Regions from separate parts of the Homo sapiens genome. Here regions 2, 3 and 4 are each reported to be linked to region 1. The links are microRNA targets in miRTarBase. Many come from high-throughput screens and were not tested one by one. Region 1 holds a microRNA gene; each other region holds the end of a gene's coding sequence.
Evidence for each region. The annotated mature microRNA hsa-miR-4760-5p reads UUUAGAUUGAACAUGAAGUUAG and lies in region 1 at 2,728-2,749, shown strand. An mRNA with a match to its seed (bases 2 to 7 or 8) in the 3' UTR can be bound and repressed. Matches are read on the target gene's strand: a 7mer-m8 pairs with bases 2 to 8, a 7mer-A1 pairs with bases 2 to 7 and ends in A, and an 8mer does both.

Region 2: the mRNA of SH3TC2 is a reported target of hsa-miR-4760-5p. Seed matches in the 3' UTR shown: 8mer at 4,355-4,362.
Region 3: miRTarBase lists CREB1 as a target of hsa-miR-4760-5p. Seed matches in the 3' UTR shown: 7mer-m8 at 3,398-3,404 and 8mer at 1,590-1,597.
Region 4: miRTarBase lists GDAP2 as a target of hsa-miR-4760-5p. Seed matches in the 3' UTR shown: 8mer at 3,234-3,241.

The regions. Positions count from the first base shown.
Region 1 is chr21:40,207,168-40,215,149 of GRCh38, reverse strand. It overlaps MIR4760 (microRNA 4760), which reads left to right and starts at 2,719; the gene lies at 2,719-2,798. All of the region lies in intron 11 of DSCAM (DS cell adhesion molecule), which reads left to right.
Region 2 is chr5:148,997,016-149,004,997 of GRCh38, forward strand. It overlaps SH3TC2 (SH3 domain and tetratricopeptide repeats 2), which reads right to left. Exons shown (of 17, transcript NM_024577.4): 17 at 1-7,887. The coding sequence ends at 7,696. Among named protein-coding and RNA genes, the nearest start is that of MIR584, 61 kb to the right of the region's middle.
Region 3 is chr2:207,593,891-207,601,872 of GRCh38, reverse strand. CREB1 (cAMP responsive element binding protein 1) reads right to left here. Exons shown (of 8, transcript NM_004379.5): 8 at 1-4,959. The coding sequence ends at 4,815. It also overlaps a transcript of METTL21A not described here. Among named protein-coding and RNA genes, the nearest start is that of METTL21A, 28 kb to the left of the region's middle.
Region 4 is chr1:117,865,659-117,873,640 of GRCh38, reverse strand. GDAP2 (ganglioside induced differentiation associated protein 2) reads left to right here. Exons shown (of 14, transcript NM_017686.4): 14 at 3,025-7,982. The coding sequence ends at 3,072. Among named protein-coding and RNA genes, the nearest start is that of GDAP2, 60 kb to the left of the region's middle.

The DNA of each region.
Region 1 (7,982 bases):
CTTCCCGGGTTCACGCCATTCTCCTGCCTCAGCCTCCCGAGTAGCTGGGACTACAGGCGCCCGCCACCGCGCCCGGCTAATTTTTTGTACTTTTAGTAGAGACGGGGTTTCACCTTGTTAGCCAGGATGGTCTCGATCTCCTGACCTCGTGATCCACCCGCCTCGGCCTCCCAAAGTGCTGGGATTACAGGCGTGAGGATTCCATATCTTTACAGTTGTGAATTGTGCTGTGATAAACATGTGTACAGGTGTCTTTTTGATATACTGATTGCTTCAAGAACTTAGGAACTCTGGAGTTTGATGCATATATATTTACAATTGTTACATCTTCTTGTTTAATTGGTCATTTTATCATTATATAGTGACCTTTGTCTTTTTCTTGTTGTTTTTTGTTTTGTTTTTTTTTTTTTTTTTGCTGTTGTTGCTTTGAAGTCCGTTTTATTTGATATCAGAATCGCTACTCCTTGTTTTTGGCTTCCATTTGCTGGAAATCTCTTTTTCCACCCTTTACCTGTAGTCTATAAGAATCCTTACATGTTCAGTGGTGTTTCCCAAAGACAGCGGTGTAGGCTGCTACTCACAGCTTCTTTCAAAGCTGTTTACGGTCCTGTGTTCCTTCTTGGAAAAAAGTTCACAGTGTGAATCTCTACACACTATTTTATCTTTCCAAGTGGAAAAGGAATGCTAACAATGCCTATATTCCATCATCTTGGAAAAACAAAACAACAAGAAAAACCCAATGTAAATATTATCAGCACAGAATCTTTCTTTATAGGCTCCAAAATATACCAGATGCACACTTCATATTTTATCTTGATTACATATGCCACTCTTTAGAGTCTCAGCTAACTATGACTGAGTAAGAATGTCTTAGAACACAGGCTCCCACGTCCATGAGTGCATTAAATATTCTTATTTCCAAAGTGGCCAGGCTGGCTGATAGCTATGACTAGTTGGAGAGAAAGCAGCATTTATAGCCTAAGTGGGCTGGGCAACAAACTACCTGAAATCCTTAGGAGCAAGAATAGAAGGGATGCCTTGTTCTCTACACCCAGGTATCACTCATTGCCTGATGTCTCGCTTCGTGTGTTTGCTGGGTTTCCGTCTGTCTAGGAAAGGAAGCTCTATGGGGGCAATGACTCCAATGAGTTTGTCTCCCTTTATTCCTCACCATGTAGGTGTGGATTTGAGTGGACTCCAAATGGCTGGGCCAAGGGCCTTGGATACCAAACACAGCAGAAGATGCGGAAAGGATGAGGGACCCAGGGGTTCTGTCTTTGGGGGAAGAGCCCTGTTCCCTGGACATTGCCTCCTTATATCCCTGCACTAGAATATCGTAAAATTCCCCTAGTCAAAACCCATGATCCTGCATGTCTTGGAGAGGCTGCCTCAAGGATTCCTCCTTGACTCCACTTATTTTCATGGAGAAGGAACCCCTCCATCCCTGGCATCCTTAACAGATTCCCTTCTAGCTTCTCACCCACTCCATCTCCAAGCCAGGTTTCCCTTCGCTTCTAGAAATAATCTGCAGTGGCTGCCTAAGATGTTTTCTGCGTGGAACCCAAATAAAAATGTAATAATTTAAATTAGAATTTTCTACAATCATGTGTTGCTCATGTCTGCATTATGGATACCCAGGTCACATGTAGGTAAGCAATTAGCAATTATGGTGGAAACAAGACTTCCTAACAGGTATTTTGGTGGAAACTTGAAAGCTGTTTCTAAAGCTGTTTATTCATGCAAACCTCATTACAGTCCTGACAGTAAACCTATGTGTGCACAGGGAGGCAGGAGGCTGTGAGGCAGCAGCAGGATCCTTCACCCCATGGCTCACTCACAGTGCACTCTTTAACCAGGTCTTATTATGTCCATGCTTCTGGGGTGATTAAAATATGCCCTAGAAGCCTTGATACCCAAAATAAAGCAAAACGTGGAATATGAAGTTTAAAAATGTGAAATAATAAGTAAAAGTTTTGTGAAATACATTTTTCTATACTGTTCAAATGATCTTGAAGATGGCATCCGTTTCTTAGGTCTGCCATGCAAAATGACCACGATGGAGTGGCTTAAAACAACAGACGTTTCTTCTCTCACAGACATCTGAAATCAAGAAGTCAGCAGGGCTGGTGCCTTCTGGAGGCTCTGAGGGCACATCAGTTCCTCACCTCTCCCAGCCTCCAGAGGCTTCCTCAACCCTTCACACTGCTGAGCCTGTGGCTGCCTCACTCCAGTCTCTGCCTCCACCTTCACATGGCTTCTTTTTTGTGTCTCTGTGCCTTCTCCTTTTCTGTCTCTTATATGACATTCTTCAGTGGATTTAGGACCCACCCTAATGAAGGATGACCTTATCTAGAGGTTCTTACTTTCTTTAACTCTGCAAAGACTGTATTTCCAAGTAAGGTCATATTCTGAGATTCCAGGGGTTGGGATGTTGATATATTTTTGAAGGACCACAATTCAACCCACTAAAGGGATGAAAATTAAACTGAAAAATATCAACCCCTAAAAAACCTGCTTTATTGCCAACCATATAAATTGCTCTTTGTCACAATATACAACAGAGGCCTCACAAACCTTGGTGTTCTTGGTGTGAGAATGGTGAAAAACAAGATAGAAAGCAGCCTGAAATATGCACAGGGGTGTGTCATCTCGTTACTGGGAAAGGATGTACTGTCCAAGCGACAACTAGACTGCAGAGGTAAGGCTGAGACCAGGGCTGCCATGGTGTTTAGATTGAACATGAAGTTAGAATTCTTAAGTATCAAAACTAAATTCATGTTCAATCTAAACCCCATGGCTATGCCTCTCAAGGTGAGGCCTCTGTGTTGTTCTCTATGCCTTGAGCACCCTTCCTTCTTTGCAATAAAAAAAGTTGCAGAATTGACTGGGCACAGTGGCTCACGCCTATAATCCCAGCACTTTGGGAGGCCGAGGCAGGCAGATCATGAGGTCAGGAATTCGAGATCAGCCTGGCCAACACAGAGAAACCCTGTCTCTACTAAAAATAAAAAAATTAGCCAGGCGTGGTGGTGCACGCCTATAATCCCAGCTACTTGGGAGGCTGAGGCAGGAGAAATGCTTGAACCTGGGAGGCGGAAGCTGCAGAGAGCAGAGATTGGGCCACTGAACTCCAGCCTGGGCAACAGAGCAAGACTCCCTCCCACCCCCCACACCAAAAAAAAAAAAGCTTCAGAATTTCAGTCTCCCACAACAAAACCCACACACACACAAATTTGTGTAGCAGCTACTATTTGCCAACAATTAGGGTCTACACAATTAAGACATCATCTTTAACCTCAAGCAGTTTACAATCCAGAGGGCAATGATGGAGGAGAATAATGAGGTGTGGATAAAAGTGCCTATTAGCAGAGTATGCAGTGGAAAGTGTGATAACACTTCTAGATAGAAGGCAGTTGGTCCATAGGTATTTTGGTGAGAATCTACATGTCTGATGCATCATGGGCTGTACCAAGGACAAGTCACTGCCTTTGGAAATGTTTGACTCATGCCCTGATGGATAGGTGGATAGGTCTACACATCAAAAATGCATGCCTGGCTACACATTTATGAGAACAACAAAAATTTTTTAAAAATTATAACGCCACATGCTGGCAAAGATGTGGAGAAACTGGATCTCTCATGCATTGCTGGTGGGTATGTAATATGGTGCAGACATTCTGGAAAACTCTTTGGCAGTTTCTCATAAAACTAAACATGCACTTACCATGTGGTCCAGCAATTGTTCTCTTAAGCATTTATCCCAAAGAAATATGAATTTATGTTCACAAAAAGTTATATAAAAATATCCATAGCAGCTTTCTTTATAGTAGCTAAATTCTGGACAAACAGCAACAACAACAACAACAAAATGAATGTTTCTCACAGGTGAATGGTTGAAAAATCTATGGTCCATCCATAGTTTGGAATGCTGCTATTCAGCAATCAAAAGAAATGAACTGTTGACACACACAATAACCTAGATGAGTCTGAAGGGCATTACGCTTAGTGAAAAAAAGCCAACTTCAAAAAGTTATCTTTATAAAGCATTCTCAAAACGATAAAACAGCAGAGGTGGAGAATACCTTAGTGGATACTAGTAGACAGGTACAATGGGTAGGATGGGGCCAGGTGCAAACACAGACAGATAGGAATAAGGAATTCTTCTGTGGTGTGGAATAGTTCCTCATTTGATGGTGGTGGTGGGTACATGGACCTGTAATGGGATAAAGTTAAACGGAAGTATACACCTACAGAGCTACACGAGCACATACACACAAATGAATGTGGGTTAAAAATAATGAAGGTGGCCAGGTGCAGTGGCTCATGCCTGTAAACCCAGCACTTTGAGAGGCTGAGGAGGATGGACCACCTGAGGTCAGGAGTTCGAGACCAGCCTGGCCAACATGGTGGAACCCTATCTCCACTAAAAATACAAAAATTAGCCAAGCATGGTGGCACATGCCTGTAATCCCAGCTACTGGGGAGGCTGAGGCAGGAGAATCATTTGAACTTGGGAGGCAGAGGTTGCAGTGAGCCAAGATCGTGCCACTGCACTCTAGCCTGGGTGACAGAGCGAGAATCCATCTTAAAGAACAAATAAATGAATAAAAGATGAAGGCATCTAGTCTACTGGATAATGTTAACTGGGAATGTTCCCATGTGGGTTTCCTGGCTCTGATATTGCACCACAGCTATGGAAATTCACAACATGGCCAGAAGCTAAAGGACACACAGGACTCTACTATTTTTGCAACTTCCTAGGAGTCTGTATTGCAAAACTTTAGCTTTGTAAAAGTAAATGCCAAAAGATATATATGTGCAATAAATGTGAATATATACATTAAAAAGTTGTGGGAGTTTGGAGAAGGGAGAGCCCCTTGTAGGGGTGAGGTCAGGGAGGGCTCCATAGAGGAGGTAGGACGTGAGTTTAACCTGGAAGGTGGAATGAAATCCAACTTGAAGAACTGGAGGTAATTTTCAGAATGGCAAAACAGTGCCAGCCAGTCATACCTGGAAAAGGAAAACCATGTTCTCAGACCTCAAAATAGGGAATGGGGGAGGTGGAGAAACATACAAGGTATGTTTGAGTGCTGGGGTGGAATGTCTGGGTAAAGAAGGAGTTAGTGGGTAACTGGAAACATAGGTTGCAGCAAGATTATAAAACGTCTTAACTTTTAAGCTGTGAAAACTGAGCTTAATCTGTAAATAGCAGGAAGACATTGTAAATTGCAAGTGAGAGGATATCATACTGGAAGTTGCATGTGAGGAAGCTGAGTCTGGCAGAGCCCTAGGATAGACTGGAGTGGAAAAGGAAGATGAATGAGCGATGAGTTATAATGCCATTTCACAGCCCAGCACAGGCATCCTGATTATGGCTTGCAGTAAGCTGATGGTCACGGGCCTAGAGGGGACAAGTCTAATTTAAATGATGCTATGAACCTTGACCAAGAAGGACCAGGCCACTGATTGCCTTGGGGACCTGGAATCCATCCAAGGAGGAGCCTGGGACAGGAATAGGGACAGGGAGAAAGCTTGGAAGGAAAGGTGCCACATTTCATCTGTCTCATGTTGATTGTAAGGGGATGGTGTGCCTTCCAAATGGAAGTACCTGGCTGACCTCCAGAGATGGGAGACAGCAGCTCAGGAGAGAGTGGTCAGGGCTTTATAAGAAATAATCGAGACAGCCCAAGCAGGTCAGATCAGCAAGGGTAAGAGTGGAAAAGAGAGCAGAAGAGGAAGAACAGAAATGTAGGAGTCTTGTGTGTGCAGGCATCGCCATGCAACGTCTATGAAATGAGTAGTTTCTCACTTCATCCAGTCTTCTTCTTGGCATTTTGCTCAAAGCCTGGCATTATACTGGACAGGTCCAGGGTTGGCCACACACCCTGCATAACCTTCTCACTCATCCTCCCCCACTGCTTCCTTAACAACCTCCTGTCACTCACTGTCATCAAGGCGGAAGCATGTGCACTTCACTTCATCAACCATGGCAACCAGCTCTGAGAGTCCCAAGTGGAAGACGATGAGGGGAGAATCACTCATTGTCCTCGTGGCTACAGGCAGCCTCTCTGAGCCCACAGAACCTCACCCCTACAATTAATCCTGAATGCGAGTTCTCAAAATAGTGCCCGCTCATTTAGCTGTCAGCTGTCTTGCTCTTAGAGCTTCTGAAAAGAAATCACAATAGCTCAGACCTCATCTTTGAGGGGCTGTTTGTTTTGAGGGCTTTTTCCTTAGTTGCATGCTTCCTATTGCCAGCAAAAATTTCTTAATCTTCCTAGAGGATCAGATTGGCCTGTTTTAGATTTTTAAATGAAAGGTTAAGAGGAGGGAGGAGTAGGGCAGTGAAAGCCGCAGCTGCCTCTCCATATTTCTGTTTCGCAACCCAAGGGGATTTTGTGTAGGGCTAAATGGAACCCCCTACGGATAACAGTTATGTCAGGAGATCTTTCTGCATGTTCTCGTCATACTCAAAATGTTCCTTCACATGTAAGTTAGAGAGGACATGTTACTTCTTTCCCCAGCTGTTTCCTGGTGAGTAAGAACTCCTGACCATGTGAGAATATGAGAGCATGCAGCACTCCAAGATCCTTGGGGAAAACAATGAAAGCAACAGCTCAGTGAGCCATTCTCCATGCTCAACCGAAAACCCTTTGAGATTCGCTGCCACTTTCTGTGACAATGGAATTGTGGCCCGGTTTAGCCCAGAAATGTGTTGCCCAGGCTGGAGTGCAATGGCGCAATCTCAGCTCACTGCAGTGTCTGCTTCCCAGGCTCGAGCTATTCTCATGCCTCAGCCTCCCAGGTAGCTGGGATTACAGGCACCCACCACCACACCCAGCTAATTTTTTGCATTTTTAGTAGAGATCAGGTTTCACCATGTTGGCCAGGCTAGTCTCAAACTCTTGACCTCAGGTGATCCACCCACCTCAGCCTCCCAAAGTGCTGGGATTACAGATAAGAGCCACCATGCCTGGCCAGTGCTGCTCAAATTTGAACCAGGAATATTTGTTGATGGGAACATACACTAAATCTATTACTCCATGGATTCCATTTTTATTCCATTGATAATGTATTATAGGTATTATTAGGAACTAACTTGTGTCTCCCCCTAAAATTCGCATGTTGAAGCCGCAACTCCTGCTGTGACTGTATTTGAAGATAGAGGCTTAAAGAGGTGATTAAGGTAAAATTAGGTCCTAAGGGTAGTTCTCATCTAATCTGACTGGTGTCCTTCTAAGAAGAGGTTAGCGTGTAGCCACACACATGGAGGAGTGACCGTGTGAGGACCCCAGGTGAAGATGGTTATCTGCAAGCCACGGAGAGAGGCCTCAGGAGGAATCAACCCTGTCAACAACTTGGTCTTGGACCTCGAGCCTCCAGGACTGTGAGATAATAAAGTCCTATTATTGAGGCCAATCCATGATAATTTATTATGGCAGACCTAGCAAATGAACACAGATCTATCTTTCTGAGACTTTACATTATAGTTTTTGTGTTTTAGGGGCTGAATAATATGCCACTTATAGATGTGTAATTACTTTTTAAGTAACTGTGAACATTTATGTTGTGCCTAAAGGCTCCTATAATCAATAAGATTGCAATGAGCCATCCTTATACATAAACTATGCACATTTATCTAATTAATTTCCTAGGATAAAATACAAGAAAAGGAATTACAGGGTCAAAAGATCTGCTCACACAACATATTTTTACACCTGGCCAAACTGGCTTCCCAGAAGACTGTACCATCAGACATTTCCATTGCAAGACTAGAGTGCCAGCACCCCAGTCCCCACCTCCTACCAAACTGGACACTTTCAGTCATCTGCTCTGCAATGGCAAGAAAATTTCACAGAAATTAAAGAAATTATAGAAAGAATTTGAATATCTTGGTATTTTAATATTGAAATTTCCATTTGTTTAATGAATTCTCTATCCTTTTTCACTTTTTCTGGGATTGTTTTTAGTATTTATAAATT
Region 2 (7,982 bases), not on the chromosome of region 1:
TGCATAAGAAACAAAGCATCTGTACATGAACATGGGCTCTTCCCAGGCTATTTGTTTTGCAACACATATTTGGATGAGAAGGATGTTCCTAATAGCTTTTTCCATGATGTCAAAAGTAGGCTATTCTCTCATGTTCATGATCTTCCTTCTGCTACCACCATTGGAGCTACGGGTACTATGATGGGTGAGACCCACGAAACTCCACCTGGCTGCTTCCCTTCCTCAGATGTCCATAGTCTTCTACGATTGGCTCTGGAGTCTCTTGCAAGTTTCCCTCATTCACCTCACTCCCAACCTGGAATCTTCTTCAAAACATAACTTACTGATCTTATAATTTGTTTTGACCAATCACTACTATAGGTCAAAGCTTTCTGTTCCTCCTTCTATTTTCCATTTGGGAAATGCAGTCTCTCTTTTTTTCTAGGCTAAGTTACCTGACTGTGGTCAACAATAACACCAGTATTTCTTTTTCAAGACCTCCTGGAAAGTCAGTTCTCTCCAATCCTGTTCTAAAGTAACCAATTTTGATTGATTCAATTACACCAGAATGATTGTGTTGATTTCAGCCCAGTATTTCAGGCTGATGAAACAAGTTTTAATCTAATGCTTCTATTCATGATCATATTAGTGATAGCATTTCTCTCAGAGATGTGTCACCTGACAGAAACACAATATAATATAATGGTTTCATTTCCTAGCTCCAGCATCAGAGGACATGACTTCAAATTTCACCTCGATCACCACTAACTGTGGACTTAGACAAGCCACATCAATTCTCTAAACCTCAGTGGAGATAAAAATAATAGTAACTACACCAAAATGTTGTGTGATTACATGAGAGTCATCACAAAGGTTTTGCATGAGACTTAATGCATAAAACACATTAACCTCAACTGTTATTTTTATTTTGAGATGTACACACTCTCTGGTCTCAAAAAGAAGTAAGATATCCATCAAATAATACATAGAAAAGAACAAAGGCTGGAGCCCTCCTGCACTTTTTTAGAGACCACCCTCCAGGTCAGCACTTTTCAAACTACAGGTTAATGAGTGAGAAATTCATTTGGTGAGTCATAAATTTGATATTTTTTAACTAGAATAGAATGTTTTTAAAAATGAATAGAACAAAACAGAATGTATGAGTGCATTTCTCTATGTTGTTGCATATGCACAAACATATGCACACGAGGATAAACCATAAAATGCATTTCTTACTGTGGGCCACAACAACAACAACATAACAACAAAAAAGGATTTGACAGCCACTACCCTAGTCTGATTCAGAACTATTAATATTAAATACGTTCTTTACCAATGATACACTATTTAGGAAGACATCACTGCCCCCTACTGGAACTCTTGGATTTCTCACAGAAAAGGACAGCAATGGATTAGCCTGTCTTCTCATTAGCCATGTGACTTCAACCATCCTCTCACCTACCCTGTCTGGAAGTTCATCTCAAAGAGCCTCATCCCTCAAGCTAGTGTGATGCCCTGGATAAGGAGTCAAAGGCAGCACTAGAAGTGGCAGCTGGGTTCTCACCTTTGAAATCGTTTTGAAAGCACAGCATCCTTCCCTCTCACCTGCCTCGCAGTCTGTACTGGGAAGCCAAGCCAAGCAGCCCCACTGTGCAGTCCTGGCCACGCAAGTTATTCTTGATCCTGCACCATGGCAGCTGGGGAGAATCCCCACCCCCTAAGCAGTCACTTGTCTCTGCTTCTCTGGGGAGAAGACACCCCTTAGAGGAGGGTGAACGAAGTGCACATTCCCAGAGCCAGCACTTCCAGCAGCCTCCATCCTCAAGTCCCCTGAGTTCTGGAATAATCAGACAGAGTTGGGAGAGTGAGGGGGTACATATCAGGAAATATATGCTGTCCCACCGAAGAGGGAAGACCGCCAAGTGAGAGGCCCAGTAGCAAAGAGCACCCCTAACATACACACCCTCCCGCTTAACGGTGTGGGACCCAGGAATAGATGTGCTTATTAAGAATCTACTCAGTTCTGCTTCATTGTGACAGCTACCACCAATTGACATTCATACCAAGCCATCCATACATCTCGTCTCAATTAAAAGTCTGAGCAGAGGAATAATTGAAGCTTAAAGAGGTAAAGTAAGTTGCTCAGGTCACTCAGTGATGAAAAGGAGAAAGAGCTTCAGACCCAAGTGTCCCTGAATGCAGGACCAGGGTGCCTGGCCACACCTCCAGGTTTGGCTGCACTTCTCAATGTCAAGGCTTACATGCCTCCAAAGATGGATTTCCTTTTTAGCCATTTCCTTGTCTATGACATAAGTAAGTCTGATATAATTCTGACAGCCCTGGGCTCAGGGAAGTTAATTAATTTGCAGAAGGTCACACAGCTAGTAAGAAACAGATTCTAACCTAAGTATGCCCAACTCCAAAACACATTACATTGCCCCCACCTGAGCTGCCACCTGAGTGAGTGCAGAGCCCATTCCCTTGAATTTCTTCCTTCTTTGCCGCTTGTCCACACATCTCAATGGGAGCAATTAAAAGAGGAAAAGAGACCAAAACTGACAAGGTCATGAAAAACAAGGAAAGGCAGAAACCGTCATAGACCAGAGATGCATAGGGAAATATGGCAACTAAATCCAATGTGGGATCAGAAGAACATTAGTGGGGAAAACTGTTGATATCTGAATCAAGGCTGGAGTGTTGTGTTGCAATCGCCAAGTCCTAATGTGTTTTCTACCTTCTCCACTGCTGCCCTAATCTAGTCTCATGCTGCTTCTAGAATCATCTTTCCAAAGCACAAATCTGACCATGTTTCTTTCAACTGCTTATAATCCTTCTATACCTTCCCCTCAACCTCCAGGTAGAATCCAAACCCTCTTTGCTTCCCTGAATCTGCTCCAGCCTCACTGCACTCAGAGTGACCTGTTCTCAGAAAACATCACCCCCTGTCCACCCTCTGGACCTTTGCTTGACACATGCACTGTCTGTCAATACCAACCTGCTGGTCTGCAGTTAGAATTAAGTAAGTGTCCCTTTCAGAACTCAGTTTGGATATCACGTCCTCCAGAAAGCCCTTCCTGATGCCCGTAACCCTGTCTGGGTAAAATCCCTTCCCCGCAGTGCCTGTAACATCCTGTAACTAACACCAATCACAATGCTTCTGATACTGAATCATATTACATAATATATCATTTGCCCCTTTCCTGTCACCCAGCTGAATCCCCACTTCCCTGAAATGTGTGCCCAAACCTGGCATTGAATGACACTGACCCTCCTCAGAAGGAGCTCAGTCCTCTTCCCTGCTTACTCCATTTCTCTGAGTGTGCAAGGAAAAAGTGGTTGTTGCTAGTCTGTCATCTACACTCTCTGCCACTTATTAATCTCTCTGTTTTCAAACAATGCCAGATAAGGCCTAGGCTGGGTGCTTGCAATGAGCAACAGGACCTAGCTTGAAGTTAATGCATTATTTTATTTTCATTGTATTTGCCATTATTTACATAATTCTGTTTATGGAAAACAATACAAGTTTTTCTTCTATATAGACTAGTCATCCCTTATAAAAATAAGTTAATATGAGTAAAAGAAGTAAATCAATTTAGAAAATGTTTTGTAAAGGCTCTTTGGTGCATATCGTGATAAATGCATGCATACATACACACACGTGTACATATACACACACAACTGTGAAGGAAGCCCTGAACAGCAGAAATCCTGTCATTTGTGCAACTAAGTCCTTGAGTCATGAGACCCCCGCCTCAAGTACCACTGTCTTTGCCACTAACTACCAATGTGTCTGGGAGAAAGTTACCCTTCTGTTCCTCAGTTTACTCACCTGTAAAAAGAAGATAATATAATTGAGCTATAAAAATATATTATTTCATCTCTCCAATACTATTTCTCATCCTATTCATACAGTATAAAAATAGCACTGCTGAAAAACCCAGAGGTGAGGTTCTTTTATCAGAGGACAAATATCTGAGATGTGTAGAGGTTAAGTGACTTGCCCAAGGTCGCACTGCAATTTAATATCAAAATCAAGACCAAAATACAGGTTCCCTTTAGTGATAGGCTTCCTGATCCCTCATCCTAACACCCTCCATTCCTGCATATTCCCTTCCCCAAATAAACTTCTGCCAAATGAGGTGCATTATATTTACAAAGAGGAAGAAAATGAACACACACACACACACATACATATATATACACATGCACAATATAAAGGCATCTTAAAATAATGGAAAAGCAAATAAGAAAAGGACAAAAGCAATATTGGATTTCAGAATGTTAATACTGTTGGACAGGGAACTAGTATACCTGAAAGCTGAGAAAACATGTTACAGGGTTTTCCACAATGTTGCAATGCCCTTCTTGTTCTTTATTTAGATTAGATGTAAGGAGCCAGCAGTCACACAGCCCATATAAGATTTGAGGGAACAATTAGAATAAAGAGGGTAACTAGATCATGTTTGGCTATGATACACTTATTTTTTTAAATGTTTAAGTAGAGACCAAATCCAATCACCACTTTACTCTCTGTGGATCATGAAAAAAAGACAGCATCAACATGTTTCCAAAGGGAATAGCTGGCCCACATTTCAAAAATGAAAATTTTAAACACTTTTTAAAAGAGTTTTAGCAAGCGGTTTACATATAGAATGTAGTAATTGCAATTATATAGCACAATGTTTTTCTTATTTTAAAAAAATAGTCTTACCCTTGTCTTTGGAAACATGCTAAACATTTTTATAACTGACCTGGTTATGGGTAAATTCATCAGATTTATAGGTAAATCAAAGTGCACAGAATTGGGAAATTTTAGCTAAAATTTCCAAGGAGATGTAACATGGATAGAAACAACGCTCTTCACGTATGTGTGTGTATGTGTATGCATATGCAAATGCATGTGCATATTTGCAGCAATTGAGAAAGATCTGTCCAAACAGAAGTTCAAGTCAGAAGACACAGAAGTTTCAACTGATTATAAAGCTCAATGGAAGCCAAGGACAGATGTGGCTGCTGGGGAGAGGAAGAATCAAATTAAGTATAGTAACATCCCTCTGTACTCTTCACCCACCGGCCAATATCAAAAGCCTCATGCAGTTGTGGGAACTGCTCTTTCAGAGAAACAGAAACAAATCTGGCCAGAGGAGAGTGAGTGGTCAGTGGGAAAAGGGAGGGGATCTGTAACCTGAGTCAGATGGGGAATGGCCAGTGGCATGGTTTCCAGGGCTGTGTGAGCCTTCTTCAAATACACGATATGTAACTGTTCTGGAATGTGTGTGCCCCTGACTGTCTCCCAGGAATGTTGTTGAAAGGACTATGCACGGGAGATTAGACTGAATAGCCTCAACCGCAACGTCCCTCCCAGCTTGGGGCTTTTACAGCTTGTGGTGGGGGCAAAACCACATCTATTCTCCATGGTAGTAGATTAGATAACTTTACTAATTAGACAACTGGAAGCTTCTCCTTCCTGGAGAATACTCTCTAGAGTAGACAGCCTTTTGACAACCAACCACATCTCTAAGAGAAAATGTGTGCCAATTAGTAGACAACCTTGATGACTAGAAGATGCAATGGCGGCTCAACTCACCACTCCCATCTCACCCTTTCATACAACCAATCATCTGGTCAGCCCAAGAAGCTAGAAATTAAGGGCAGATGGTCTGATAATAAAAGCTAAGCTGATGGGCATCAGATGCAGGGAATTATGGCTGGTATCCTTGTGGTTCACAGAAAAGGAGCAAGGGTGAACCACCTGCATCAGGCTTGCTTGAGTTGCTTTCTAAAAATGCATGTTCCTGGGATACATCCCAGATCTACTGAATCAGAATTATTAGAGATAGAAACCAAGAAGTTCATGTTCCACAACCTCACCAGGTAATAGTTATGCACACTATCTGAGGGCTCTTGCCCTGCAGTGGTGCTTCCCATACTTTAGGGTGCATTAAAATCACCAGGAAAGCTTGGACGAGTCAGCGTTCTGGGATCCAGAGATTCTGATTCAGAGATCATAGGTGGGGCCACAGATTTTCATTTCAAACAATCTCACAGGTGATGCTGATGCTGCTGGTTAGTGGACCATATTTTCAGTTTGCTGAAATTAGAGAATTCCCAATTTCATTATCAAAGAACTCAGATACTGTGGTAGGTCACTTCTGAAATGATCCCCAATGATTCCTCACCATCTGGTATTCAAGCTGTTGGTAAACACTCCCCTCTTGTGGGAGCTAGACCTAGTGACTCATTTATTATGAATTGAATAGGCAAGACTAAGGAGATGTCACTTCTGTGATCAGGTTATAGAAAGAGTCACTCCCTTTTCTCCTGCTCACTCTGGTTCTTGCTCCTCTTGTTTGCTCCCTCTAGTGAAGCATGGTGCCATGTTGTGACTGCCCTGTGGAGAGGCCCACGTGGCAAGTGGCTGCAGGAAGCCTCTGGCCAACAGCTAGCAAAAAACTGACTCCTAACAACAGCTGTGTGGGTGAGCTTGGAAGCCCATCCTTCTCTAGTTGAAGTTGAGATAACTGCAGCCCCAGCTGATTGCAGCCTGTGAACCACCCTAAGCTGGTGGGCTCAGCTAAGTCATGCTTGGATTCCTGCCCTTCAGAAACCATGAGATTATAAGTGTTTTAGGCCACTCAGTGTGCTATGCAGTGATGTTATTAATAGAGATGCTTTGTAAAGCAGCTGCCCTGAAATCAATAAGATGCCTTGTAGTTGGGTATGGCACATGCCTGTAGTTCCAGCTACTCAGGAGGTTGACACTGGAGGATCACTTGAGCCCCGGAGTCTGAGGTCGCAGGAAGCCCTGACTGTACCACTGAACTCCAGCCTGGGCAACAGAGGAGAAACTGTCTCAAAAAAAAAAAAAAAAAAAAAAGACATGTATTGGTATTCTCTCCCATCCATCAAGTCCTCCATCTCATCTGCCCCCATTGTGGATGAGACAAAATGTGTGTGTAAATGTAACTGGACAATATTTAATCATATACACTATTTACATGTAATTTATGTCATAATTTTCTTAACATTCAATTTCCAAGCCTTTGCTCTTGGAAAGCTTCCCTGGAGCTTCTGGGAGGTTATGTGGGAGCACAGCCTTATGGCAGGAGGAAGATGGTGAATCCAAGTCAGGTTTCGTGCAATCCATCTGGCCATTCTGAGGCTGTGTCTTTTGAGCTAAGATCCTGGTGAATTCTCTCCTGTCAATCCCTGTGAGCATGAGGAGTGATACATACTTTGGTTCTGAAGAAAGAAATGGAAAAAACTACAGGTTCCTCTGCTGGCAAGGGGAAGGGGTCTTTCCCTGAGAAAATCGGTGAAGAGCACAAATTCCAATCTGCTTGCCTTTGCACCAGTGCAGTGACTGATTTCCTCATTGGGGGAGGAAGGAAGGCTCCTGGAGGGCAAGATCCCTCATCTTCTCCAGAATTATGTATGGAGAAAGTGCTTTTCAGAGGCTGTTTGTGTGGAAGGCAACAGTCAACCGGTAAAGGCTCCAGATGCAAAGCCTGGAACCAGGAATTCTCATCGCTGCACCATCAAATCTTTCTGTGGCCTGCAATGAGCCCTTCTCCTCCTGGACTTCATTCTTCTTCTTGTGAAATGAGGGGGCTAGGCCAGGTAAGGACTCGGACCCTCCCAATGAGTATTTAAGAGCCTAGGGCAGTGGGGTCAGAGTCTGGCCATGCCAAATGTCCAGAGACAGGACAGCTTTCCTCAGAGGGCCAGGCCACCACCACTCAGCCACCGCGCCCTCTCTGAGGAGCACCCGGAGGGCCTGCTGTGCCACAGGGGGCTCTGGCAGATGTTGTCCAGCCTGCTCCTAATGGTGTCCTGAAGCTCCTCATCACCCAGCAGGACCGCTGCTGCCAGGGCCAGAAGGAAGTACTCAGTGGCATCATGGGCATCCTAACCCCGTGGTATGGGGGCAAAGAAGAGACAGCATTAGCAAACACTTCCAGGACAGGCTAGGAGGCTGTGCTGGCCACTCTAGTTTTTTTTGT
Region 3 (7,982 bases), not on the chromosome of region 1:
GTAAGCCTCCCAACAAAAAGTTCTAGTTGTGCTTTGTACAACTGAGTGAACTATTTATCTCACAACTCTTCACCTACAGCCTTACTATGCACACTTTACTTTCTCCTTCCTCATCTGAAATCAAATTTAGGCAGCATTTCTTTGATGTTAACAAAGCCATTAAAAATGAACATATTTCAGTATATTACATGTGGTCTCTGTGAGGACAATTGCTTTAAAAAGTCTTGTACTATTCTAGACAAATTAATGGATATTTTGGCATACTATGTACAGTATTAATGTTGTGATGAGGATAAAGTCTCATTAAAAATTGAAAATAAATATTATGCACTTGAGTTATTTTCCCTTCAATCTTCATCCAAGATGAAAAAGAATAAAACAAGGTTTGAGCCCGTCTTTTAATTAACTGGGCTAGTCATATCTAATTTCCTGATGTTTTTCTTTTACAGCTGTTTTTAAGGCTAGCTTTTAGGTGCTAAAATATTTTAATCAATGAAAAACTTCCATTTAAAAAGTCACATGATTTGAAGAGAGGAGAAAGACTAAAAAGTTGAGAATTACTTGATGAGGGAATTTCTTAAGTTGCTAATACCCAAACTGGGTCATTTAAAAAAGTGCAAGTTACACCAAACATTTACAAAGGACAGAATGTAAATATAATCCAAATAAATATACAACTTTTCTATTGGGTCCATGAGGGAAAAAATATACCAACAGCTTTCAGGGCTACAAAGGCAACAAAAATAAAGCCTCTTGAAAACAACTGAAAAGGTATGTAACACTATTTCTAAAACTCACTTTAATTCAAGATCTTAACTTTAAGATACATTAGCCCTACTTAATCCTGCAAAATGAAGCAGCCGTGATCTTCAAAATAAACAGAGACCAATTTATGGTAATAGCTGACTGTGGCTGATCATAGAATTAAAAATTTGTTAAATATTAAAAGAAATCTAGATTGAAGTCACTTCAAGTAAGTAAAGCATCCTGGTTTAAACAAACGTATTTCTTCCTAAGCCTTTGTATGATTCCACATGTCACCCCAAAAGGTAGAAATGATAGTAGGGATTTGTCCTACAGGGATTTATCCTGAGAGACAGAGATAAACTTCAGCCAGATGACATCTGATGGGATAGGCTGCCTGACTGGTATTGTGCTTTCAGAGACTAGCACTGCTGCTGACCTACCATCAAAACACATTTTCTGACAAAATCCCTGCTCAAATGAAATGCCAAAATTCCTCCCCCAGGATGATTTTTGAAAAAATCAGTGGTTCCTTTAAAAAGCTATCTTCAAAATGTTCTTACCACTGTTATAGCTGCCACAGACAAAGCATACAAACCAAATACTTTTGGGGGAGAGGCTTTCAAGTGACTAGTAACATATTTAAAAGTATCAAGCCAAAGAAAACTAATAAAAAATAAAATACTTGGAAGAAAATTAGAAGATAAAATCAATCATGAGTGCTGGAGTAATGCAGTCATAGAAACTACCAGAAGGAATGCAACAGAACACACAAAAATGTAAAATTTCATCTGACCTCAATATACTATAATACTCAGCATTCCTGACTTAAGAGCTCTCAGAGCTTTAGATTATATACTGTATGTATATATATATATATATATATATATGTACACATATATTATACAAATGCCACCCCCCCCAAGAATATCTAAATGAAGAGAGCACCTATGACAATATTATGGTTGCCAATATGGTACTTGAGTTTGAAAAAGAATGAACTTAAAATTGTATCTGATAGCAATTATTTAATAATGAACACATTGGATCTAGCCCTTTCTAAGCCACTTTTCAGTTAAACATTATCAAAGCTTGAAAACTCATAAGAGTAATATATCAAAAATAAACCCCTCCCCACTTCATTTTTATTAATCTGTCCTATAGATAAAAGTGCCACATGGCCCTATATTTGCAAAGTGAGCAATATCAAACTTGCTATTTTCTAGGCAAATCAGTAGCATATGTACAAATTCCTATGATGACATTTTTATTCCCTTTTGGCCAATATAAAGAGAAAAACATTTATTACTGGTAATGTGGCCACATATGTTCTTGGCTACAAGGTTTTTAAAAATTATGTCATTTTCTTAATAAAGATTCTCAAAGTTTCATGCTTACAAACAAACCTCCCCACCATTCTTGCATTAAAAAAAGAAAACTGCACAAAAGATGCTTGATTTTATCTTTATAAACTGAAATCTTCAAGTTTCACCAAGGGTCTAAGACAGATTTAGCAACAGGATACATTTCTCACCTCATCATTAAGCAACTGACTTCAAAACCAGTGCAATCATCCTCAAGGTATGAAGGATAAGGTCTTTATAACTTATAAATTCATCCAGCTCACATGAATGTGATTGCCTTGATTTATCAGGGACTAAGAGGACCACCAACTTCCCAGTAAGTAGAAAGCCTGAACTTTTGAAAAAAAGCTTTAGAGAATACAAACTGCTAAACATCAGGCAATTTTTCATTTATAACACTTACTTCATTCAAAATGTTCGATTCGACATTTTGACTCAATAAATAATTCCAACTTGTGAACATATTTGTGACTTTGCTTGATTTCTGTTAAACCAGTTTTTAAAAATGACATATCTATGCGGTTACACAATTTTTATGCTATAACTTTCCCCATTAGCTCAGCAGGACAAACATCAAACTTTATAGTTGTTTGAAAGCCTTCTTGAGAATCTGGTGAACTGTCCAAACATAAAGACTACATCACTTAATTCTTAGAATGATGCTCCTTCATAAACTCTGTTCATCCTTGAAAAAAGACAATGGTTTGTTACAAACGAAAATATACCATTTACAAATGTTAATTAAAATCTTATTTTAAAATGGATCCAGCAATTAACACTTAAATCTTCATATTTTGTTGTTAAACAAGCTTGACTTTCTTAAATAACTCTTGACTAAATATAAAACATTAGTTTTCTAAGTGTCTCAACTCTTTTTTAAAAGGAATTTCCTTCCCAAATGAGACATTTTTTTTATTTTTATTTTTTGAGATGGAGTCGCCCAGGCTGGAGTGCAATGGTGCTATCTCGGCTCACTGCAACCCTCTGCCTCCTGGGTTCAAGCAATTCTGCTGCCTCAACCTCCTGAGTAGCTGGGATTACAGGCGCCAGCCACCACGCCTGGCTAATTTTTGTATTTTTAGTAGAGATGGGGTTTCACCATGATGGCCAGGCTGGTCTTGAACTCTTGACCACAGGTGATCCACCCACCTTGGCCTCCCAAAGTGCTGGGATTACAGGCGTGAGCCACTGCGCCCGGCTCCAAATGAGAAATTATAACCTAACATTATGTCAGTTTCCAATTTTTAAAATCCACCTTAGTCTTTTTTTTTTTTTTTTAAGAGTAACTGTTAGATTTATCGAGCTTAGTGAATAAAATGAGTAACAATTAAAAGTGGTATTGAAAACAATGTATGATATACACAAATACAGACTGTTTTAATCAGGAATTAAAATTATAAAATGACAAAGGCTATACAGCATATTGGAAAGCTAAAGCAGAACTAATAACTACTCTTTTTACAAGAGAACAAAAAAATGTTTTGTAAGAATGACAATCCAAATATTGCAGTACAGCAGTCATTCAAATATGTCTGAAAATAACTTTCCTTGTGCACATCTAACACTGTACTTTTTATATCCTTACAACTTCTTTCATTTAAAAAATTCACTAGAGATTCTCTGTTAAATTGTTAATATGGAAAATATTTAAAATCAGTATTTTTCTACATGTAACATTTCATAAACAAATATATATCACTTTGCTTTATTTGACATCTTGAAGGCTTTCTTGGTGGTGGTATGTAAGTGCAATGGGCAACAGTAAATTAGAAATATCTTTTTACGTAAATGAGTGACAATATAAATATTTTTGAAGGTGAGGACAATAACATTTATTTAAAAATCTTGTTATATAACTCAAGGGATTGGTTTACTGATCAGCATTTTACTAAGAATTTAGTACTAACTAAAATATGCTTTGTACTTTTATTTACTTTGCTTTAATTTAAAATTCAAATACCATGCTTTGTCGTTCAGTTGGTTACTTCTTTTAATGTATTCAAAAATGTTGAACACATACAGAACTGAATTAAGAAGCAACAACTGCCCTATGGAAGAGCTGTATTAGTACAGAATGCTTTTAAGAACCAAGGACAAATTTTCAGTATTGAAGAAGACAACATACATAAAAAGCACTCCAAATTCATTTCTAATTCCTTCAATACCATGCTAAAGTTCTTTTTTAGAGGGTATGTCTCTTAACAACTTTACATAATTCACAATGAGAATGTGACAACATGTCAATTTGGCAATCAACACTTCTTCATTGCACCTTACTTACTTTATGCATGCGGCCCACACATTACTTCAGCTCAAGAGGCTGGGGTAATTCTGTCCCTAAGGCAATCAAGGAGCTCAGCACAAACCTTGAAATCATTTTTAAAAAGATTTTCTTTTCCTCATTTCTCCCATCAATTTACAAGTAAACAAATTATTACTTCTTGAGGAGGGTGGGGGTTGAAAAGCAGAAGTCTCTTCATGATTCCTGGCGTTGAAAATTTCTTGAGGGGAGAAGTGGAGGCAGGTGTTGGAACATTCACAGTTTAATGCAAAAGCACAAATGAATGAAATTCTGTAGTTGCTTTCAGGCAGTTTTGCGCATAGAAAAAAAGAAATGTTTAGAAAATAAAATGTTTATTTTGTCTTTCAGGTTGTGGCCAAGCCAGTCCATTTTCCACCTTAACAGGTGAAAATTTAAATCCCAAATTAATCTGATTTGTGGCAGTAAAGGTCCTTAAGTGCTTTTAGCTCCTCAATCAATGTCTTGTTTTGATTTTCAAGCACTGCCACTCTGTTTTCTAAACATTTCACATATTCTTTCTTCTTTCTACGACACTCTCGAGCTGCTTCCCTACAAGCAAAAGAGGACGGGAAAAATTATGCAAATGATTTCCACATATTTATTTTGGATTACCTTTTTTTTTTCTTTTTTAAAGAAATAGCTCACAGCAACCAACATTTTAGTATATATTAAGCATTGGAAAAGATATACAGAATTACTTGGAAATTACCTTATATTAAAATTTTAATCTGGCCAGGCGTGGCGGCTCACGCCTGTAATCCCAGCACTTTCGGGGGCCAAGGCAGGGAGATCACCTGAGGTCAGGAGTCCAAGATCAGCCTGGCCAACATGATGAAACCCCTCTCTACTATAAACACAAAAATTAGCGGGGTGTGGCGGCACATGCCTGTAGTCCCAGCTACTTGGAAGGCTGAGCCATGGGCATCGCTTGAACCTGGGAGGCAGAGGCTGCAGTAAGCTGAGATTGCGCCACTGCACTCCAGCCTGAGTGACAAGAGTGAGACTCCGTCTCAAAGAAACAAACAAAAAAACAACTCCATAAACAAACAAGACCTAAATGACCACTTAAAAATTACATCTTACTATTAATTAAAATATTCTGCATAATTCCTGCAAAACTTGAAATTCTATCCATATCAATAACTAAGAAAACATTAAAGCTAAATTTCAATGTGTAACAATCCTTTAAATAGAAAATCTTACAAACTAATCATTTCAGGGCATTTAAAAAAATCTAACAGTCTCTTCAACAAATGGTGCTGGGAAACCTGGATATCCACATGCAAAAGAGTGAGGTTGGGCCGCACCTTATGTTGTACACAAATATTAACTCAAAATAGATCAAAGACCTAACCGTAAGACCTAAAACTATAAAACTTCTAGAAGAAAACACTCTCTGACATTGGATTTGGCAGTAATATCTTAAATACAACACCAAAAGCAGAGGTAACAAAAGCAAAAATAGACAAATAGGACTATATCCAACTAAAAAACTTCTGCACATCGAAAGACAATAAATAGTGAAAAGGCAACCTACAGAATGAGAAGAAATATCTGCAAATCATATATCTGCTAAGGGGTTAAGATCTAGAATAGGCAAGGTGTATGGCTCACGCCTATAATCCCAGCACTTTGGGAGGCTGAGGTGGGAGAATCTCTTGAACCCATGTGTTCAAGAACAGCCTGGGCAATATATTAAGACCCTGTCTCTAAAAAAAAATTTTTAAAAATTTAGCCAAGTGTGGTGGCACATGCCTGTAGTCCCAGCTGCTCAGGAAGCTGAGGTGGGAGGACTGCTTAAGCCCAGGAGGTCTTAGGTTGCAGTGAGCCGTGATCCTGCCACCTGCATTCCAACCTGGGTGACAAACCAAGAACCTGTCTCAATTAAAAATTAGTTAGGTGGTGTGTGCGTGTAGTCTCAGCTACTCAGGAAGCTGAGGTTGGAGGCCGGGAGGTCGAGGCTGCAGTGAGCCATGATCATGCCACTATACCACAGCTTGGGAGACAGCAAGATGCTGTCTCAAAAGAAAGGGAAAAAAAAAATCTAGAATATATAAAGAACTTTTGAACTCAACAGCAAAATAACCCAATTTAAAAAATGGGCATAGGGACTTGAACAGAGATTTCTCCAGAGATATATAAATGGCCTATAAAAAGATGCTCAATATAGGCTGGGTGCGGTGGCTCATGCCTGTAATCCCAGCACTTTGGGAGGCAGAGGCGGGTGGATCATGAGGTCAGGAGTTCAAGACCAGCCTGGCCAACATGGTGAAACTCCATCTCTATTAAAAATACAAAAATTAGCCAGGTATGGTGGTGGGTGCCTGTAGTCCCAGCTACTCAGGAGGCTGAGGCAGGAGAATCACTTAAACCCGGGAGGCAGAGGTTGCAGTAAGCCGAGATTGCACCACGGCACTCTACCTAGGCAACAGAGCGAGCCTCCATCTCAGAAAAAAAAAAAAAAAAAAAAAGATGCTCAACATCACTAATCACTAGGGAAATGCAAATCAAAACCACTAGGTATCACCTCACAACCATTAGGATGGCTACTATCAAAAAACCACCACCAGCAGAAAATACCCATTGTTGATGAGGATGTGAGGAAACTGGAACTCTTGTGTACTGTTGGTAGGAATGTAAAATGGTGCAGCTGCTATGGAAAATGGAATGGAGGTTCCTCAAAAAATTAAGAACAAAATTTACCATATGATCCAGCAATCCCACTTTTTGCTACAGATCCAAAAGAACTGAAATCAGGGTATTGAAGAGATATCTGAACACTCATGTTCATTGCAGCATTATTCACAATAGCCAAGAGGTGGAAGCAGCCCAAATGTCCATCAGCAGATGAGTGGTAAGCAAAATGTGGTATATACATACAATGTAATATTAATATTATTCAGCCTTAGGAAGGCCCTCTGCATGCCAAAACGTAGATGAACCTTGAGGGCATTATGCTGACACAAGCTAGTCTCAAAAAGACAAATATTGTGTAATTTCTCTTATGAGGCATCTAAAGTCAATCAAATTCATAGAAACAGGACTTACATTAGTGGCTGCCAGGGGCTGGGGGAACGAGGAAATGGGGAGTTGTTGTTTACCGGGTACAGAGTTTCAATTTTGCAAGATGAACAAGTTCTGGAAATCTACTGCACCACAATATGAATGTACTTAACATGACTGAACTGAATACTTAAAACTCATTAAGATGGTCAATTTTGTTATATTTTTTACCACAATTAAAAATGAAATTATTTAAAAAAATCTAACACAGATTAAAAATAATTAAAAATTATTCTTTAGCAAGCTGCTCAATCTAAACCAGTAAATTCTTTTTTAGCTCTGTGTGGTCAAGGGCCACAATCTTATTACTTAACCTTAATTTCCTGACTGTAAAAAAGGACATGGTAATATTTTCTACCTCAAAAGGTTTGTGAGGGCTGGTGTGGTGGCTCACCCCTGTAATCCCAGGTCCCAGCGCTTTGGGAGGCTGAGGCAGGCAGATCACTTGAGGCCAGGAGTTTGAGACCAGCCTGGCCAACATGGCGAAACTCTGTCTCTACTAAAAATAC
Region 4 (7,982 bases), not on the chromosome of region 1:
TGAGATGCCCCATCAGTCATTGAAATGGAGATACCAGTAGGTAGCTGCATGTTACCTTGTAAGGAAACATTTTCCTTTGTTAGGAAGAATTAAAACTATGATCAGAGAAAAGAAATGAGTATAGAGTTGGTTAATTTCATTATCATGTTCAAATTGTGCCTTGCATATAGAAGGTTCTTTATTTGGTTAAGGAGTGAAGTGGTTAGTATCTGTTTAAAAAAAAAAAGAAACCCAAGTTTCAGTGGGCTTCTATTTTTCTGGGATTTATGTGACTTGGAATAGCAACATCAATTTTATAGGATTAAAAGGGACCTTTGAAGGTAATCAGAAGCTATTTTTTAACCTATCTAGGTAACAATGATACTGAGACCATTTCAGAAAGAGAGTTATTGGCATTCTTAAAAACACAGAGCAGAGAATATACAGTTTTTCCTGGCAACAATTCTTAAAATTTCTATGATTGTTTCCAGAAATAGAAAAAATATTTGATTGCTCAGCAGTCTCTTGCCCAGTGTGAAATTAATAATGGAAATTCTATTTCATGGCATTAAGTATTGAACTTGCTCTTCTTAGTTTGTCATAATTTAATGTAGGTGTGAAAAACTTAGAAAAAATTGGTAATAGAATAGAGAACTCCTAAAGACAGATAGTGAACTTTTCAGATGAAACTCAGAATAGATTCATCTCTTCAGGGCATGTTTCTGTAAGTATAGCTTCCATGCATATTGAAGATAAAGGATTTGGTCAGTGAAACATTTTTATAGGTATTTCTTTTTTATATAAAATTATTTTATTTAGTTTTTTAAGTTCTGAGGTACATGTGTAGGATGTGCAGGTTTGTTACACAGGTAAACATGTGCCATGGTGGTTTGCTGTACCTATCGACCCATCACCTAGGTATTAAGCCCAGCATGCATTAGCTTATTCCCCTAATGCTCTCCCCCCACCCTCCCCCAACAGGCCCCAGTAAGTGTTCCCCTCCCTGTGTCCATGTGTTCTCATTGTTCAGCTCCTACTTGTAAGTGAGAACATGCGGTGTTTGGGTTTCTGTTCCTGCATTAGTTTGCTGAGAATAATGGCTTCCAGCTTCATCCGTGTCTCTGCAAAGGACATGATCTCATTCCTTTTTATGGCTACATAGTATTCCATGGCATATATGTACCATATTTTCTTTATCTAGTCTATCATTGATGGGCATTTGGGTTGATTCCATGTCTTTGCTATTGGGAATAGTGCTGCAGTAAACATACATGTGCATGTATCTTTATAATAGAATGGTTTATATTCCTTTGAGTATATACCCAGTAATGGGATTGCTGGGTCAAATGGTATTTGTGGTTCTAAATCTTTGAGGAATCACCACACTGTCTTCCACAGTGGTTGAACTAATTTACATTCCCACCAACAGTGTGAAAGTGTTCCTATTTCTCCGTACCGTCACCAGCATTTGTTGTTTCTTGACTTTTTAGTAATCGCCATTCTGACTGGCATACGATGGTATCTCATTGTGGTTTTGATTTGCATTTCTCTAATGATCAGTGATGTTGAGCTGTTTTTTTAATATGTTTGTTGGCCATATATATGTCTTTTTTTGAGAAGTGTCTGTTCATATCCTTTGCCTGCTTTTTAATGGGATTGTTTTTTTCTTGTAAATTTGCTTAAGTTCCTTGTGGATTCTGGATATTAGTCCTTTGTGAGATAGATAGATTGCAAAAATTTTCTCCCATTCTGTAGGTTGTCTGTTCAACTCTGATGATAATTTCGTTTGCTGTGCAGAAGCTCTTTAGTTAGATCCAATTTTTCAATTTTAAAAAAAGGTTTTATTAAGGTTTTTCAAGTTTTTAGAAATGTAGCCTATCCTAGGATTTGTTTCTACCTATTTTTTTTATTTTGTTTGATACATGGTTAGGTTTATAATTGGAATGTAAGTTTTCCTAGATGTCTTGTTTTCCTGGTTATGGCCCAAGATCAATTCTTGCTCCAAAGCATTTGTGCTGAAGAATGGCAGAGTACCTGATTTATTTAGTCTCAAACAATTTCACTGCCTGCTATGTTCAAGACCCGGTAGGTTTAATGCTCTGTAGTAGCTATAATGTAAATGTACCATGAAGAAATGCTATTTTCTTCTACTTATTCTTCATTTCAAACTATTGTCTTATACTAGTGCTAAGCATTATCTGTTTGTGATTTGCTGAAAAACAAATTCTTTGTCAAAGAAATACTTTCCTTAAAAATGAGAAAGCAATCTTAAGTCTCATAAATCTAATCCAGGATCCTTCTATCATAAACTTAACTGTCTTGATTTTTACTGAGATTAGCCAAAATCAGAGCCAAAAAATTCCCCCTTGCACTAATTTGTTACCCTTACATTGACATTAAAGGTTTGGCATTTAATTCTCCATCTTGATCTTGAACTAAATTTCCTGAGAACTGTAATTGTTACAAGCCTTGCCACTCAGGCATGTCATGAAGACTCACTTCTGCCAAAATAGTTATAGCTATTAAATTCCTCTGTGATAACTTTTTTGTTTTCCTAACTCTAAATTAAGATTTGGCACACAGTAAGACAACACAATCTAACAAAAAAGAATCTGGATGTTAGATTTAAATAGATTTGAATTTAAATTCAGGCTGTGCTGGTTACCAACTAGGTAACTTTAGGCAAATTATGCAATCTGTGTGATCCTCAGTTTCCTCTTCTGTAAAGTGAGGATGTTACCTACTTCATGGCATTATGTGAAGATTTAAAGGGATGACTTTAAAAGCGCCTATAAATTGTCTGGCACATAAAATATTCAATAAGTGGTATTATTCTTAAAAAATATTATGATCCTATTGCCTTTGTCTGTCTTATACTCTGAGTGATACTAGTTGAACTACCTAATGGCTGAGGGCCTGCTTAGTGCCAGACATGTGCTAGACATTTTATATCACTACCTCAATGACTGTAAATCCCTTTTTTTCACATTTCCAGTTAAATTGGTTCTGTTACTTAAATGTTCTTCTCCTTTTTTCTTTCCACAGGAAAACGGGCCTTACTATACATCATATCCCCCATCACCAGATTTGTGACCTGCCATCTTTCAGTGCTTCTTGGTTCCCAGGATGCCACTTCCTCCACGAATAGCTACCTGTTGAAGTGATATTCATTGTTGCTGTACAGATCCAGAGAGCCTTTTGTCCCCACCTCTCTGGTATTTTTTTATTGACTGTATATTTTCTGGCACATAAGCAATCTAAAAATGGTAGGCCATTCTGAACTGCACACATTTTAAATTTGTATATTTATATGAAATGGAAATGTTCATTTTTAGATTGTTAATAGAAATTGGGGAGCAACTTTTGAGTATCTTTAGTTTCCTGAAGGACACCGAATTCTCCATTAGATAAACCACCAAGACTGTTCACATCATCTCTCTAACATTGCACGCTTCCTTTGTGTACTTAAGTGATTCTCGAAATATACAGAACCAATGTATGCTAACCAGATGCATTGTTTGCTTCAGATCCATGGTGTTAATACCATGTATATTTTATAAAGATAATTTGGCTGTGTTAAAAGAGAATTACCTGAGTCCAAGAATGTGGAAATGTATCTGACAAAAAACATCAAAATCATTAGCAAAACATAGGACTTAGAATGTTAATGTACAAGTTAAGACTAAAGTTTAAGGACTAAGGTTCCTTGGATTATATGACTTGTTAAGATTGCCACAGTTCCGATCTCAACAGTGTGGGGTGAAACAAGAAGACTGTATCTTCAGCCTTTTTCCTATAATCATGGATGATTTGGTCTTATTCAAAAGGACCGCACATATTAGTACTCTTAAGAGCATCTTCCAAGACTCCAGCAGTGAGCATTTAGAGAGTGTGTTGTCTTCCAGAGTCATGAATGATTTTGTTTAGCTATCAGGTCTACTACCTCTAAGGACATTTCATAGCAGCATCTCTTGAGTTGCCTGCATCAGTGTGGAGGAAGTGTGTCACAGTGAACAAATCCAGGGAGCTGATAATTGGCAAAAGACCACTTTTACCACTCAGGCTCTATTTGTGCCTTAGCTTGGTTATGAGTAAAAATTAGAATTATGCTGCCTACCTCACAGAGGTATCATGAAGATAGCATTTAGAAAGGGCTTTGTTGTGGTGGGGTATCTTCAGTTAGTTTTTAAATGGGAATAAATATATATGAGGGAATGCTACACAGCACTCCTCTTGTCCTTGATACCATTTGAGTGATTTTTCTTTTTGTGTGGCAATACCTGTTAGTGTAAAATTCCAACCCTGATGACCTCCTTCCTCTTTTGTCCAGAATCTCTTCTGGCCTGCTCATCCCCTGATGCTATACTTCAATAAGAGGCATCTGTTGGCCATTTTAAACATTTCTTCTTGAATTAAGGTCAAACCATTATTATTCCCATCTGGGTAGCTTTGTACTTTTTTTGATTCCTACAGCCACCTCCCCACAGCCCCATCTTCCTCACCCCATCACGTACATTGGCAGTTCAGAGAAAAAAAAAAGCAGAACCTTTCTGTTCTATCATGTGCTCCAGATCAGTGCTTCCAAGGGTCCCATTCTTTTCTGCCCAAACTAATTCTTCATTGGAGATCAAAGAAACATATTCTCTTCATTTATGATAGGGAAATGCCCCTATAGTGCATTAAATTCATCCTGTATTTTCCCATATAAACAAGAAGAGACTTTACATTTTTTAGATAAAGGTTCTTATCTTTTGCATGTATTGAACACATTTTCTTTGTGTCAGACCTCAAAATTACTTGATCCTTATATATACATCTATGTTAAGATTTTCTCTTATGTCCCCTAGGTCATCACATCCAGGCAGCCAGTCAGATGTCGGATGTTAAGCTTTCTCTCAAACAGTACTTTTTTTTTAACCCCTTGGGCACTGTACCTTAAAAGTCTGCAACTTTAACTTCATCTTCTACAGTCAATCGTGAGATCATATTTGAGGTATCTTCTTCACAAGGAGCAGCTATGAAAGTCTGCCAACTTTTCTTTGTTAAAGGGGAACTTGGCTACCTCAAGAACCTGGCCCAAACCATTTTCTGTAGAGATAATAGAGGCCGTAAGCTACTTTGCCAATTTGAAAGGAAGCAAATTTATATATACAATTTCTTACAGGCAATGATTTTGAAAGGATGTTCCTTTGCTATATTCATACCAGTATATTAATGTTTAGTAACACAAGCAGGATTCTACATATGCTGAGATTTTAGTACAATTGATGTCCTAGGGTATAAAGGTGATACAGAACTATATACATATCAACTGTGTTTTATAATTCAATGATGACTAAAGAAAGATAAGGACCACTCTTCTCACTGAAACTAAATTTGATGTGGGACCAAGTTCATGCTTTTATAGATGTCTAAAGTGTTATAGAATGAAGTTGCTTCAAAGTACCAAATCCTAGAGGAGAAATATAATGACCTTGATATTGAAATGATTAAGCAACATTTGGTATACCAATCTGCCTTTGTGAAAAGGTTTAGCCTGAATAATACATGCCATTTTCAAGGACATATTAGAGGATAAAGGGGATACTGGATGGAGATGACCACCAGCATCTGATGTTAATTCAAAGCACCACCAAGTCTTTAATTTAATTAAACTTTGGTCATGCCAAATGCTAATTGAATTGTTGAAGACACAAGTTATAAAATATTAATTTATTAATCATGCAAGGCATAATATGATTTTTAAAACAAGTACACTTCTTGCTTCCACGTGTATTTGGGTTCTTAATTCATCTATATCCAAGTTTCTTGATAGTGAAAATTACCTCTTAAAAAAGGTTCAGCCTTTATTAGACTCGTGAGGGCAAATGGTACATATTTTAAAGACGTTTTCTCCTTTAATGTATATTATGTTTCATTGGCGGATGCTTTATATTTCCTTTTTCTTTTTCTTTTTTTTTTGGAGACAGTCTTACTCTGTCACCCAAGCTGGAGTGCAATGGTGTGATCTCGGCTCACTGCAGCCTCGGCCTCCCAGGTTTAAGTGGTTCTCCTGCCTCAGCCTCCCTAGTAGCTGGGACTACAGGTGCCTGCCACCATGCCTGGCTAATTTTTTTTTTTTTTTTTTTTTTTTTCAGTAGAGACAGGGTTTCACCATGTTGGCCAGACTGGTCTCAAACTCCTGACCTCAAGTGATCTTCCTGCCTCGGCCTCCCAAAGTGTTGGGCTTACCAGTATGAGCCACCGTGCCCATCCTGTATTTCCTTTTTCAAAGGAATACATCTGCAGTATTTTGAGAGTAATTAGCAGAGGGTTTTTTGAGTATTTTTGGTAGGAAAAATAGATGTAGTTTTTTAATCAAATTTCTGAAATTGAAAATATCACTTCTTTTTAAAGAGGGATAAGTATAGTCACTCTAGTAGAAAAACATGGCTTGCCTATTTCCTCTTCTTTTCTGTTTGCTTGGATATTGTTTAATGAATTCAAACTGTAGGTTTAGTCTTGTCTTTATAACAGTTAATGGAGAAGTGATAAAATTAAGTATTCAGCATAAACTAAAGATCACTCTTTGTATTTCCCCGATACATTGACAGTATGTATGTATATAGAGTTTAAATTGCTTAATATATGCACAGAAATGATTAGAATTTGAAGTACTATATAGAGGAGAGTTACATGGTTCTAGTGGCAGTGGATTGATTGTATTAAGGACCAAAAGAACTGCAGGATAATATAAAAACACCTTGAAAACTGGAGTTAGTTAGGTTTCTTTTTCTTTTTCTTTTTTTTTTTTAAAGGGCCTTACTGTACTTTTTTTTTTTTTTTGGTCACCCAGGCTGGAGTGCAATGGCACGATCTCGGCTCACTGTAATCTCTGTCTCCTGGGTTCAAGAGATTCTCCTGTCTCAGCCTCCCCAGTAAGTGAGATTATAGACATGCACCACCATGCCCGGCTAATTTTTGTATTTTTAGTAGAGACGGGGTTTCACCATGTTGGCCAGGCTGCTCTCGAATTCCTGACCTCAGGTGATCTGCCCACCTTGGCTTCTCAAAGTGCCAGATTACAGGCATAAGCCACTGTGCCTGGCCAGGTTTCTGATTATAGTTTTCTTAAGTTGTAATCATCATAATTAACGTGCGCTAGAGTGTTTTAACTGTGCTGGCACTAATGCTTCTTGGCATATAATTAACTCTTGTTTTGCAAAAAGACCATGAAGAATGAAAGGAGGGCTTTACCTTACCTTAGTCATTTTGGGTGAATACCGTAAACTGGGTGGCGTAACAAAACACATTTATTTCTCACAGTTGGAGGCTGAGAAACCCCAAGATCAAAGTGCCATCCAGCGCAATTCCTGATGAGGGCCCTCTTCTGGCTTCTTGCTGTATTCTCACTTGGCAGAGAGAGAGAGACATCGTTACTTTCCTGTCTCTTCTTATAAGGGCACTAATCTCATTCATGAGGGCTCCACCCTCATGACATGATTACCACCCAGAGGCCCCACCTCCAAATGCCATCACTTTGTATGTTAGGGCTTCAACATATGAATTTGCAGACGAGGAGGAGAACATAAGCATTCAGTTCATAACATACCTATAATCTAGGTCATATCATAAACCCAGAGATGATAAGGATTGCCTGGTAGGCCTAACCATATATACATATACATGCATGCACACACACATATATGCATAATCTGCCTTGTTTTACATTCTTTGAGTCGGACTTCTGTGGTCCATATGTAGAGAACATAGAGCAATAAATAACCTAGTTCAATCTTTGAGTCTTACTGAACTAGTCCTTAAACAGATGGTATCAAGATCATTTTAGATATTAGTGACTCTCTTGTATATTAGTTATTTTTTACACTTTTAAGAACAGCATCTTTGAATCTTTTCAAGTACAGTATGCCTTAAATGTATAGGACCACTGAGTTCAGGAAGAAAAGCATAGGTATTCTGTAGGTGAATTACACTAACAAAATCACAACTGCAGAATGTGATCT